Linked DNA regions of Homo sapiens. The protein of the gene in region 1 interacts with the protein of each later gene in a biochemical or structural test. Each region holds a gene or a part of one and is shown in the gene's direction. Other genes may lie near its edges.

What was found.
Region 2: the proteins of FRMD5 (region 1) and ITGB5 form a complex in vitro, tested with the Homo sapiens proteins (one study listed by IntAct).

Annotation. Positions count from the first base shown.
Region 1 is NC_000015.10:43,870,057-43,877,350, reverse strand, and holds the end of FRMD5 (FERM domain-containing protein 5), read left to right. Parts: exon of another isoform or gene 1-1,545; intron 1,546-2,888; coding exon 2,889-3,466; 3' UTR 3,467-4,128; coding exon of another isoform or gene 4,129-4,203; 3' UTR 4,204-4,530; coding exon of another isoform or gene 4,531-4,544; 3' UTR 4,545-6,587; downstream 6,588-7,294. UniProt on the Homo sapiens protein: May be involved in regulation of cell migration. May regulate cell-matrix interactions via its interaction with ITGB5 and modifying ITGB5 cytoplasmic tail interactions such as with FERMT2 and TLN1.
Region 2 is NC_000003.12:124,761,166-124,765,377, reverse strand, and holds the end of ITGB5 (integrin beta-5 isoform a precursor), read left to right. Parts: intron 1-820; coding exon 821-987; intron 988-1,659; coding exon 1,660-1,755; 3' UTR 1,756-3,430; downstream 3,431-4,212.

The DNA of each region.
Region 1 (7,294 bases):
GAAGGGGAAAAAAGAGACCCTTTGGGCTTCTGGAGCTAGCCCTGAACCAAAAAACTCCCTAATCAACCTGACTTAGGTAAAACCTTTACTGAGCTGGGAATCTGGTTCAGTCTGGGATTGTCAGGGACTATTTCAGGGCAACAGAAGGGGACTGGCTTTTCTTGTCATAGGTCACAAAGGCAGAGAGAACCACACCAGCATCACCAAGATGGCCAGGAGTGGAAAATGCAGACATTGAGCCTAAAACAAGAAGCCATTTCCTTGGGAGCACTGTGATGGGGGCCGCGCTCACTCACTATATGCCCAAAGCCTCTGGCCTGGGTGGCTGCTGTTCAGTTGAGAGTGTAACCAGCTCCTGTTTTCCCTGCCAGGGCTTGAGTCCTGTGAGAACCTTGGGAAGAGAGAAGAGATAATGGGTAGTTTTAGGGGATAGAATACCCCTTCCTCCTACCAAATGTAAGAGAAATCCACCCCCGCAACAAGATCTTCTCAAACTGTTTTGTGCTCTGAAGTGTCTAAAGATAGGGGAGCTTTTCAGCCTATTCTAGACCCAGCTCCTTCTCAGAGGAAAAGAGAGGGAGCTGGCCAGGGACTACTCCCATGCCCCCTCAAGAAGAGCAGAGAGAGTTTCTACCCCATCATTCCACAAAGTCAGAACAGCTAGAACGGAGGCTGAAGAGACTGAGAGCAGCTGCAGAAATCCAAAAATATTGACCTTATAAGCTCAAGATGCTGTATGCTGGGTTTTTACAAGGATATTCGGTATTTGATGAAACCCAGTTAGGCATGACATATTCCCCTTCTCCCCATTCCTACCTCTCTTTTATTAAAAATTTTATAGTTACAGTGTCTATGTTGCCCAGCCTGGTCTTGAACCCTTTGGCTCAAGTGATCCACCTGCCTTGGCCTCCCAAAGTGCTGGGATTACAGATGGGAGCCATCGTGTCTGGCCCATTCCTGCCTCTTAAAGCCCTCCACCCAACAGGCAGACTTGAGACTCAAACCGTGGTCCCAGCTCTGCATCAGGGGTAGTTTGGAATTCAGATTCTTTCAAACTGGGGTAAAAACCAGGCCCAGAGTTCAGAGTTCAACAACAAGCTTCCAAGATGCCGCCCAAAGGAAAAAGTGGTTCTGGAAAAGCGGGGAAAGGGGGTGCAGCCTCTGGGAGTGACAGTGCTGACAAGAAGGCTCAAGGTCCCAAAGGTGGTGGCAATGCAGTAAAGGTCAGACACATTCTATGGGAAAAACATGGCAAAATCATGGAAGCCATGGAAAAGTTAAAGTCTGGGATGAGATTCAATGAAGTGGCCACACAATATAGTGAAGATAAAGCCAGGCAAGGGGGCGTCTTGGGTTGGATGACCAGAGGGTCCATGGTGGGACCATTTCAAGAAGCAGCATTTGCCTTGCCTATAAGTGTGATGGATAAGCCTGTGTTTACAGACCCAGCAGTTAAGACAAAATTTGGATATCATATTATTATGGTTGAAGGAAGAAAATAAAATCATATGAAAGACTGAAAGAAAAAAAAAAAAAAAAAAAAAAACTAGGCCCAGGACACCAAAGGCAAGAAAGGCAGAATCTTTAACAAATTAGGGGCTGGGTGCGGTGGCTCACACCTATAATCCCAGCACTTTGGGAGGCCAGGAGTTCTAGACCAGCCTGGCCAAAATGGCAAAACCCCGTCTCTACTCAAAATAAAAAAATTAGCTGGGTGTGGTGGCAGACACCTGTATTCCCAGCTACTCAGAAGGCTGAGACACAAGAATCGCTGGAACCCGGGAGGCAGAAGTTGTAGTGAGCTGAGATTGCACCACTGCATTCCAACCTGGGCGACAGAGTAAGACTCCATCTCAAAACACACACAAACTAGGCCAAAACCGTAAGCAAAAAGCAAAGAAAAACTCTTCTAAAATGGCCACTGTGATTTCTGTGCCTTCTCTTGTTTCATACATACATATATATATATATATATATATATATATATTTTTTTTTTTTTTTTGAGACAGTCTTTCTCTGTTGCTCAGGTTGGAATGCAGTGGTGTGATCTTGGTTTACTGCAGCTTTGACCTCCCAGGCTCAAGCAATCTGCCCCCCTACAAAGTAGCTGGGACAACAGGCATGCACTACCACACCTGGCTTCCTCCTCGCCCCGAGGCAGAGTCTTGCTCTGTCACCCAGGCTGGAGTGCAGTGGCACGATCTCTGCTAACTATAACCTCTGCCTCCCAAGTTCAAGCAGTTCTCCTGCCTCCCCTCCTGAGTAGCTGGGATTACAGATGCCCGCCACCACACGTGGCTGATTTTTGTATTTTTAGTACAGACGGGGTTTCACCATGTTGGCCAGGCTGGTCTCGAACTCCTTACCTCATGATCCGCCCGCCTTGGCCTCCCAAAGTGCTGGGATTACAGGCATGAGGCACCACGCCCAGCCTTTTTCTTTTTTTTAAGATGGAATCTTACTCACTCTGTTGCCGAGGATGGAGTGTAATAGTGCGATCTCAGCTCACTGCAACCTCCGCCTCCCGGGTTCAAGCGATTCTCCTGCCTCAGCCCACCAAGTAACTGGGATTACAGGCATGTGCCACCAGGCCCGGCTGATTTTTGTATTTTTAGTTGAGATGGGGTTTCACCACGTTGGCCAGGCTGGTCTGGAACTCCTGACCTCAAGCGATCCACCCATCTCGGCCTCCCAAAGTGCTGAGATGACAGGTGTAAGCCACCATACCCGGCCTGTCGTCTTCTCGATATATCAAAATAGAGTGCAGTGGCTACTGCTGCTGGTCATGTGGGTGTGCAGAATGGTACCCAATAAAACACAATGGGTGCTACTGGAAAGCAAAGGGTGCATTGGGACACAGCCTACTCATGTTCCTTTTGCCTTTCTAGGCCTAGAGTCCTTACGGGACAGTGCCCATTCCACACCAGTGCGTTCCACTTCCCATGGGGACACCTTCCTGCCTCACGTGAGAAGCAGCCGGACAGATAGCAATGAGCGAGTAGCTGTGATTGCAGACGAGGCCTACAGCCCTGCAGACAGCGTGCTGCCCACCCCTGTGGCTGAGCACAGCCTGGAGCTGATGTTGCTTTCCCGGCAGATCAATGGAGCCACCTGCAGCATTGAGGAGGAGAAGGAATCTGAAGCCAGCACCCCAACTGCTACAGAGGTGGAGGCCCTTGGGGGAGAGCTGAGGGCCCTGTGTCAGGGGCACAGCGGGCCCGAGGAGGAACAGGTGAATAAGTTTGTTCTAAGTGTCCTCCGTTTGCTCCTTGTGACCATGGGACTCCTCTTTGTTTTGCTCCTCCTCCTGATCATCCTTACCGAGTCTGACCTTGACATTGCCTTTTTCCGTGATATCCGCCAGACCCCCGAGTTTGAACAATTCCACTATCAATACTTTTGTCCCCTCAGGCGATGGTTTGCCTGCAAAATCCGCTCAGTGGTGAGCCTGCTCATTGACACCTGAGAAGGCATGACTCCTCCCAAAAACTAGCCAGGTGGACCAAGGAACCCGGCTACCCATTCCCAGCAATGGGACCCATCGCGGAACCATCGGCACATATACCAAGTCCTCCTCTCATGACTCAAAGTCCACTGCAGCCTAGGAGGGTGTTTCCCAGAAGAAGAAAGGGATAGGCTCATGCCCTGTCTAAACAAACTGGGAAAACTCATTTTCTTCAGAAGTTATTTCAAGAAAGGCTCAGCGACTCTGTTTCTCATCTTTCCAATTTGCAGGATAATTTTTGGTTTTGAATTTTGATTTTTCATAGATGTATATTATTTTGAAGTATCAAATAAAAATAATTTATTTTACTATTACTGATTATTGCAGTAGTATCACCTAGCAGAGGGGACACTAGTTGAAAACTAGAGAGCTGCTGTCCTCTGTATTCTGCAGGAGCTTTTCCTGCTGGTGCCACTGGGTTCCAGTAGACTCATCACTGCAGCCTCAGCAGGGCAGGCCAGGGATCTGGACAATGGGGACTGTTTAGTTTTTTGTTTGTTTTTTTTGCCAGCCAGAACTTTTAAAAAAGTAAACATCCATGTAGAATGATTAAATGGAAAGTTGCTTCTTATGATGGTCTGAGTTGGATTTTCTTTTCCTTTTGTTTTTTCAAATCTGAGCAGAGTGGGCATCTGAAGGGACCACCGCTACAGCAACAGCAGCATCAGGGGTGGGGTAAGTCTGTCCCCTTAGTCTAGAGCCTAGTGGGCATCACCATAGTTTTGTATAATGAAACTAGACTTAACGTGATTTTTTTTTTCCGAAGAACCTCAAGACTTTTATAGTGCTCCAGGGGCGTTAAACGAATTCAGTGGTACCAGAGATAGATAGTTCTGTCAGAAATGTTGGACAAAGTGTAGTTAAGAGAAAGCAGAGTTAAGTTACCTGAGAGACTGTTGAGATTTGGATAGCAGTGCTTATTTTATATACACCCCCTTGACCCAAAGACTATTTCAATTTATATTTTAACAACGAAATGTTATTTTCTTAACAATTCATATTTTGTTTTTACTTTATGGATTAAGAAAATAGAGCCTGATGAACTAAACGATGCAAGAAAGAAACTGATCCTGAGAATGAAAAGCTTCAGAAAATAGAATTCCAAGATCAACAGCCTTAGAAGGGACCAGGAAAAGAATCTTTTAAAATAGATTTCTAAGAGATGCCTACAAAACACAGAATGTGACCGTGGCAGAGACCAACACTTAGATGTAGAAATGCTGCCCCCTAGGGTCATCCTCTGCATAAGTTCTAGGAAAGCATCACCATCCTTGCAGAGGGAAGTCCTCGAAGCACGCAGCACAGGCATATGAAGGGCGAGTGTGGGATCCTAGGCCCAAGCTCTTCAACTCTAAAACCAATCACACACAAGATCCTGTTTTCATCTCAGGGAGAGATTTCTAAGTCATCTGGGGCTTGAGGGCTTATTTAAGGGTGGTCAATGGACATATTCCTGGACCCACACAAAAGTAGAGCAGCTGCTGATACCCTAATTGGACAGCCCCAAACGCAGAACAGAACAAGTCACTTGTAGACTTGACCTCCCCTATTTTGTCCCCCGAGATGGTAGAACCATGTCCATGTTTACAATATGACAACTGTGGAATAATTGGGGTTCTTAGGGAGAGATTTGCATAATTTTAAAGACATCCTTTCATCTGGACCAGAGGTCAATCAACTTATGTCAAGTGCTACACAGTAAATATTTTGGTTTAGCACGCCATACTGTGTCACAACTGCTCAATTCTGCCATCACAGCACAAAAACAGCCACAGATAATTTGTAAATGAAGGAACATGGCTGTGTTCCAATAAAACTTTATGAAAACAGTGAGCTGAATTTAGCCTACAGGCCATAATACGCCAATCCTGCTCTAGACAATAAAACTGATCCTTACCAGTATGTTAGCAGAAGAGGGTCAGTCAGCTCTGTTTCCATGCCTGACATGTATCAAAGATCTGGGACCTCTTCCCAGTGGAGGCACTAGGGTTGCTTGTTTAAAGGGTGCTTGAACAACTAACCAGCAAAGAGATGTCTGATGCCAAATGGGCAAGATCAAATACTGGAATGCTAAAACACAGCTGGAATCTAAGAAGGGAAGAGGGCTTCTCTGACCATTTTCATACCAGCAACAATTTAGGCAGAATTATAAACATCTATTTATCGAGTGACAATACAAACCGAAGGAGATCCTAGTAGAGATTAGGGGTCAGTTAAAATCAACTAGCCACTGCCACTTGTCATCTACATAGCAAAGGCTTTATTTAGCACAGGACTAACGTGAAAAGTAGACCCAGAGATGAAAAGGCTGTCAGGAGACAGGGGGCTGGTGTCCACCTGGTATCTACTGTCTTATGCAACATAGAAGATTACCTTTTAGTGTAGTGCTCCTACCTCAGTTTGTAGAATCTGGTGTTTCTATGCAGTGAGTGATAGCCTCAACTCTGACCTTTCATATTCACATTAGAGACAGATGCAGTATTCCATATCCTAGTATGTTCCTTGTGTCTAGAGTTCTAACAGTACAGTAGTCTATGCCATTTCTAACAGCTAAATTTTGCTCTGTAAACAGAAACTTTAGGGTTGTTTTTTTCCAGGGCTCATCCCAGAAAATATGGATAGAAAAGTTTCCTTCAGTTTGCTTTTCAAATAGTGCTTGAATAATAAACCTCCTTTGATTGGTGACTAGTCTTTTTTGGTATATCTCCACCTTTAAAAATTGTTCAAGTTTTTAACCTGGTTATACTGTGTTCTAACATGTCTCTCATTTTCTCTCAAAATTAGTTTATCTCATTGTAGAAAAAGCAATGGTTTTCATAGCTTCATCTATCAGGAAATAAAACTCTTACTAAAGAATAGCATACTGCATCTTTAAGCAGTAGAGGGTAAACTACCTGCAAATGTGAATTTCTTAGATACATTTAAAAATATATAGTTGTTAACCTTCTGTGTGCCAAAAACTCTTAAGTTACATTTTCCTTCAAAGCAATGTACTTTTTTCTACATATGCAGTATGTAGTTAGCATAAAATCATTGGTGCCATGAAGATTATTTTTAAACTTAAATAAATATTTAAATATCATGGAAGAGTGGGCTCTTTCTTTAATAATAGCCTGTCTTACTTTTCCTCCCTTAAAGTTACTAACACATAGATAAAAGGATACTGGTGGGATTTACACAGCTGACTACTATTCACTTGGATCATATAACATAATTATTTTGCTTGTATCCACCTATTATCCTTGTCCTTACCCCCAGATAAATACTGTTAGAAACTGAGAAGCGGCCAGGCACAGTGGCTCACGCCTGTAATCCCAGCCCTTTGGGAGGCCAAGTCGGGAGGATCACGAGGTCAGGAGTTCAAGACCAGCCCGACCAACGTGGTGAAACCCCCGTCTCTACTAAAAATACAAAAATTAGCCAGGTGTGGTGGCGGGCGCCTATAATTCCAGCTACTCAGGAGGCTAAGGTAGGAGAATCGCTTGAACCTGGGAGGCGGAGGTTGCAGTGAGCTGAGATCACACCACTACACTCCAGCCTGGGTGACAGAGCAAGACTCCACATCAAAAAAAAAAAAAAAAAAAAAAACTGAGAAGCTATATATGTAATAATTTTAAAGTGAATTGGGTATTTTTCTGATGAGGAAAACCAAGAAGACTAAGTGATTTTCCCAAGATTACATAGTGGTAGAGTCCAAACTAGAACCCAGATTGTCCACCTTCTGGTCTGCTGTTCTTACTCAAGCCTGGAGTAAGTGGGAGCACAGAAAATACTTTCTAAGAAGGAACT
Region 2 (4,212 bases), on another chromosome or scaffold:
GTTCAACATTCCTGCTGCTCCCATGCTCAGCTCCCAGCACCACTGAAGAGGTCAAGCTTTAATCCAAATACCAACATTCTGCCTCTGCTTGGACCCAGGGACCAATAGCCTTTGCCTTGGAGTAACTGGAATATCTGATATCACCCCTTACATTCTTCTTGGGGGTAGGGAGGCAGGGGTGGAGCAGAAAAAGATTTGCTCTCTTCAATCGACAGCACTGCAAACTATTTTTCCAAATTGAGCCCAACCACATAATGTGCCTTCCTGAGGCCAGAGGCAGAGAGAAGTGTGGTACCAGCCTAGGATGCACGCCTGTAAGAATGAGGCTTTGTTTCCAATGCTGTGTCTGAGGTTCTTTGAAAACAAGCACATTTACTCCAAGGGACACCACGCTAAAGGCTTACAAATGTTGGCCCCCAGCCCAGACCTTGTGGAAGTGGCTTCATGTGGCTTCATGGTACCTCCTGCCTGCCCAGTCTGCTCCTGAAACCATGTACACGAAAGCTGAGCGGGTCCAGCATCCTGCAATGGAGACTGGGCCAGGCGGGATGTGGGTGCTGCCCATGAGGGGAAAGGCAGCCCTGCCCCAGGGCCCTCATCTAGACTTTGCCACACTTGCTGTGTGACTTTAGAACAGTCACTGTCCCTTTTGAATCTTTCATTTTTTGTACATTGGGGAAACCCTCCTGAGGATCTAAGGGAGAGCCGAGGAGAAGGCCTTTGGAAGGGGTGCAACTTTCATCTCAGAAATGCCTGCAGTTGCGTGAGAGGGGCATGGTGATGCTAGTGGCTTTGCTTACCATGCTTCTGGTCCCCCCAGAGTGTGGAAACACCCCCAACGCCATGACCATCCTCCTGGCTGTGGTCGGTAGCATCCTCCTTGTTGGGCTTGCACTCCTGGCTATCTGGAAGCTGCTTGTCACCATCCACGACCGGAGGGAGTTTGCAAAGTTTCAGAGCGAGCGATCCAGGGCCCGCTATGAAATGGTAAGCACGTGGGAAATGGGAAGCAGAGGAGACTTCAAGCTCAGAGGCGTGGTTGAGTTCAGCGGTATGTTAGCAATAGAGGCTCACTAATGTCTTTGGCATTAAAAACAAAAGAATCAACACCAGAAACGCTGTGCCCAGTTCTGGAGAGAGAGAATTGCACAGCCCCAGTGCAGAGTGAGCTGCACAGATCCCTGTTCCAGACCCAGGTCAGGAAGGTCATGGGGGCAGAGGCGCTGGGCGTGCCTCAGGAAGAGTCTGACCAGTCTCAGAGAGAGCACAGACCAACAGGAAAGCTCAGATTCTTATGGTCCATTACAACACTCACACCTGCAGTCTGGTCACCCCAGGCAGACTGCAAATGCCCAGAGGACTGAGCGCAGTCAGTTTCTGCTGAACCTGGGCTTGGTTTCTGTTAAAGCTGGAAGGGACTTCAGAGACCTTCTGACCCAACTCCTCCTTCCAGAGGTGGATAGTGAAAGCTTAGAGAAGGCGATGGCTTTCCTGGGGAACACAGAGCTGTCCTAGAGCCCACGGCCGTCTCCTCCTGAGTGCTCTGCCTGCTGCTGTCGCAGGGGGCTGACCTGGGAAGGGATCCTAGGGCCTGCGTCTGTCGGTTTGAGTGTGTGAGCTAACATGTGTCCTCATCCTCTTCCCCGCCGTGTTCTGTAGGCTTCAAATCCATTATACAGAAAGCCTATCTCCACGCACACTGTGGACTTCACCTTCAACAAGTTCAACAAATCCTACAATGGCACTGTGGACTGATGTTTCCTTCTCCGAGGGGCTGGAGCGGGGATCTGATGAAAAGGTCAGACTGAAACGCCTTGCACGGCTGCTCGGCTTGATCACAGCTCCCTAGGTAGGCACCACAGAGAAGACCTTCTAGTGAGCCTGGGCCAGGAGCCCACAGTGCCTGTACAGGAAGGTGCCTGGCCATGTCACCTGGCTGCTAGGCCAGAGCCATGCCAGGCTGCGTCCCTCCGAGCTTGGGATAAAGCAAGGGGACCTTGGCGCTCTCAGCTTTCCCTGCCACATCCAGCTTGTTGTCCCAATGAAATACTGAGATGCTGGGCTGTCTCTCCCTTCCAGGAATGCTGGGCCCCCAGCCTGGCCAGACAAGAAGACTGTCAGGAAGGGTCGGAGTCTGTAAAACCAGCATACAGTTTGGCTTTTTTCACATTGATCATTTTTATATGAAATAAAAAGATCCTGCATTTATGGTGTAGTTCTGAGTCCTGAGACTTTTCTGCGTGATGGCTATGCCTTGCACACAGGTGTTGGTGATGGGGCTGTTGAGATGCCTGTTGAAGGTACATCGTTTGCAAATGTCAGTTTCCTCTCCTGTCCGTGTTTGTTTAGTACTTTTATAATGAAAAGAAACAAGATTGTTTGGGATTGGAAGTAAAGATTAAAACCAAAAGAATTTGTGTTTGTCTGATACTCTCTGTGTGTTTCTTTCTTTCTGAGCGGACTTAAAATGGTGCCCCCAGTGGGGATTGAAGCGGCCGTGTACTTCCTCAGGGATGGGACACAGGCTGGTCTGATACTCCAGACTGCAGCTTGTCAAGTAAGCATGAGGTGCTCGGGGCAGTGAGGGCTGTGCAAGGGGGAACACTGAGCAGATACCTTTGGCCCCTTCCAGCTTTTACTGACAGAGAGTTCCAGGCTAGACACCATAAAAACCACCCCTTGTTCTGAGGGGCTGAGGCTGGAAATAGATTGTACAGACAAGCAAGGGTTGAGTGGTGGTTCCCACACGAAGTCATCTCTTAATCATCATTAGCAATAGCAGTTCCCTTCCAAGGCCTCCCCTCACTCCCGAAACACTTACGTCCCATGCAGGCCCAATGCAAAAAAACACATTTGAGCTTTTTTCCCGCAGGGCCATGAAGTCCCCTTAAGTTCCCATATCTAAGATGGTTGACTGACCCTCTCCCCTTATGTACAGAAGAGGAAACTGATTCTCAGAGAGGGGAAGTGGCTTGCCCGAGTGTTTGTTAGGAGGTTACTGAATGACAAACTGTTCCTAAGACCCCATCTCATGCTGGCCAGAGGGCCAGCCTCCTCATTCCTGCTTGCTCTTAGAAAATCTTTCACTGATCATTTTTTGTCACTGGAATAACTTCAAGGTTATTATGCTTTCATTCCAAATGGATCTGTCCTCAGCTCTGGACCCAATTCCCCTTACTTCATTTTGGCAAACACTAAGTCAAATAGTGAAATGCCTGTCACTACATAGAACCTATTACCTGGGGCAAATACGAACAGATTGAGTTTCCTTCATCTTGTGTAAATATGATGAAACAGAGACCTGGTAACTTGGTGACACTGTTAAACCCTTTTTGGGATAAAGCCAAATGTAAATGAAAACATTAAACAGATAAATTGTGGTGTTGAGACTTTTCTGAATTGAGAAAAATAAATGTAATTTTGGAAGAAACTTTGGGTTTCTCTCATGTTTAATTTTGGGTTTCCTGGAGACAAATCATTAACTGGCTCAGAATCTCATTTTCTCTAAGGGCACGACATTCTTTTTTTTTTTTTTTAAGAGAGGATCTCACTGGGTCACTCAGGCTGGAGTGCAGAGGTGCAATCTCAGTTCTCTGCAGCCTCAATCTCCTGGTCTCCCGTGATCCTCCCAACTCAGCCTCCTAAGTAGCTGGGACTACAGGTGTGCACCATCACACCCAGATAATACTTTATTTTTTGCAGAGACAAGGTCTCACTATGTTGCCCAGGCTGGTTGGTCTACAACTCCCAAGCTCAAGCGATCCTCCCACCTTGGCCTCCCAAAGTGTTAGGATTACATACGTCAGCCACCGCGCCTGGCCTGGGCACAACATTCTTGAGCCACAGATAGCAAAGGAGGATTTGTTCTAGTTCCACTTGACGTGGAAAGTGAGGGTGTTTTCGTCTGACGCCGAGGGATGTTACGGAACCAGTGCTCACGGTGCCTTGCTGCCCCCTGCTGGAAGCTCTTGGCATGAGCTGTTTGGAGATCTGACTCCCGAGATTCCGACCCAATGTATAATTTTAAAGGTTATCCAGCGAGCTGCAAGTGACCACAAAGATAATCTATTCCAAACGCTTCATTTCACAACCCACCCCCAGATGGGTCATTTTGTAATTTTAAGATATTTTTATCAAAATGGGCCTTTGGCCGAGCATGGTGTCTCACGCCTGTAATCTCAACACTTTGGGAGACCAAGGTGGGAGGATTGC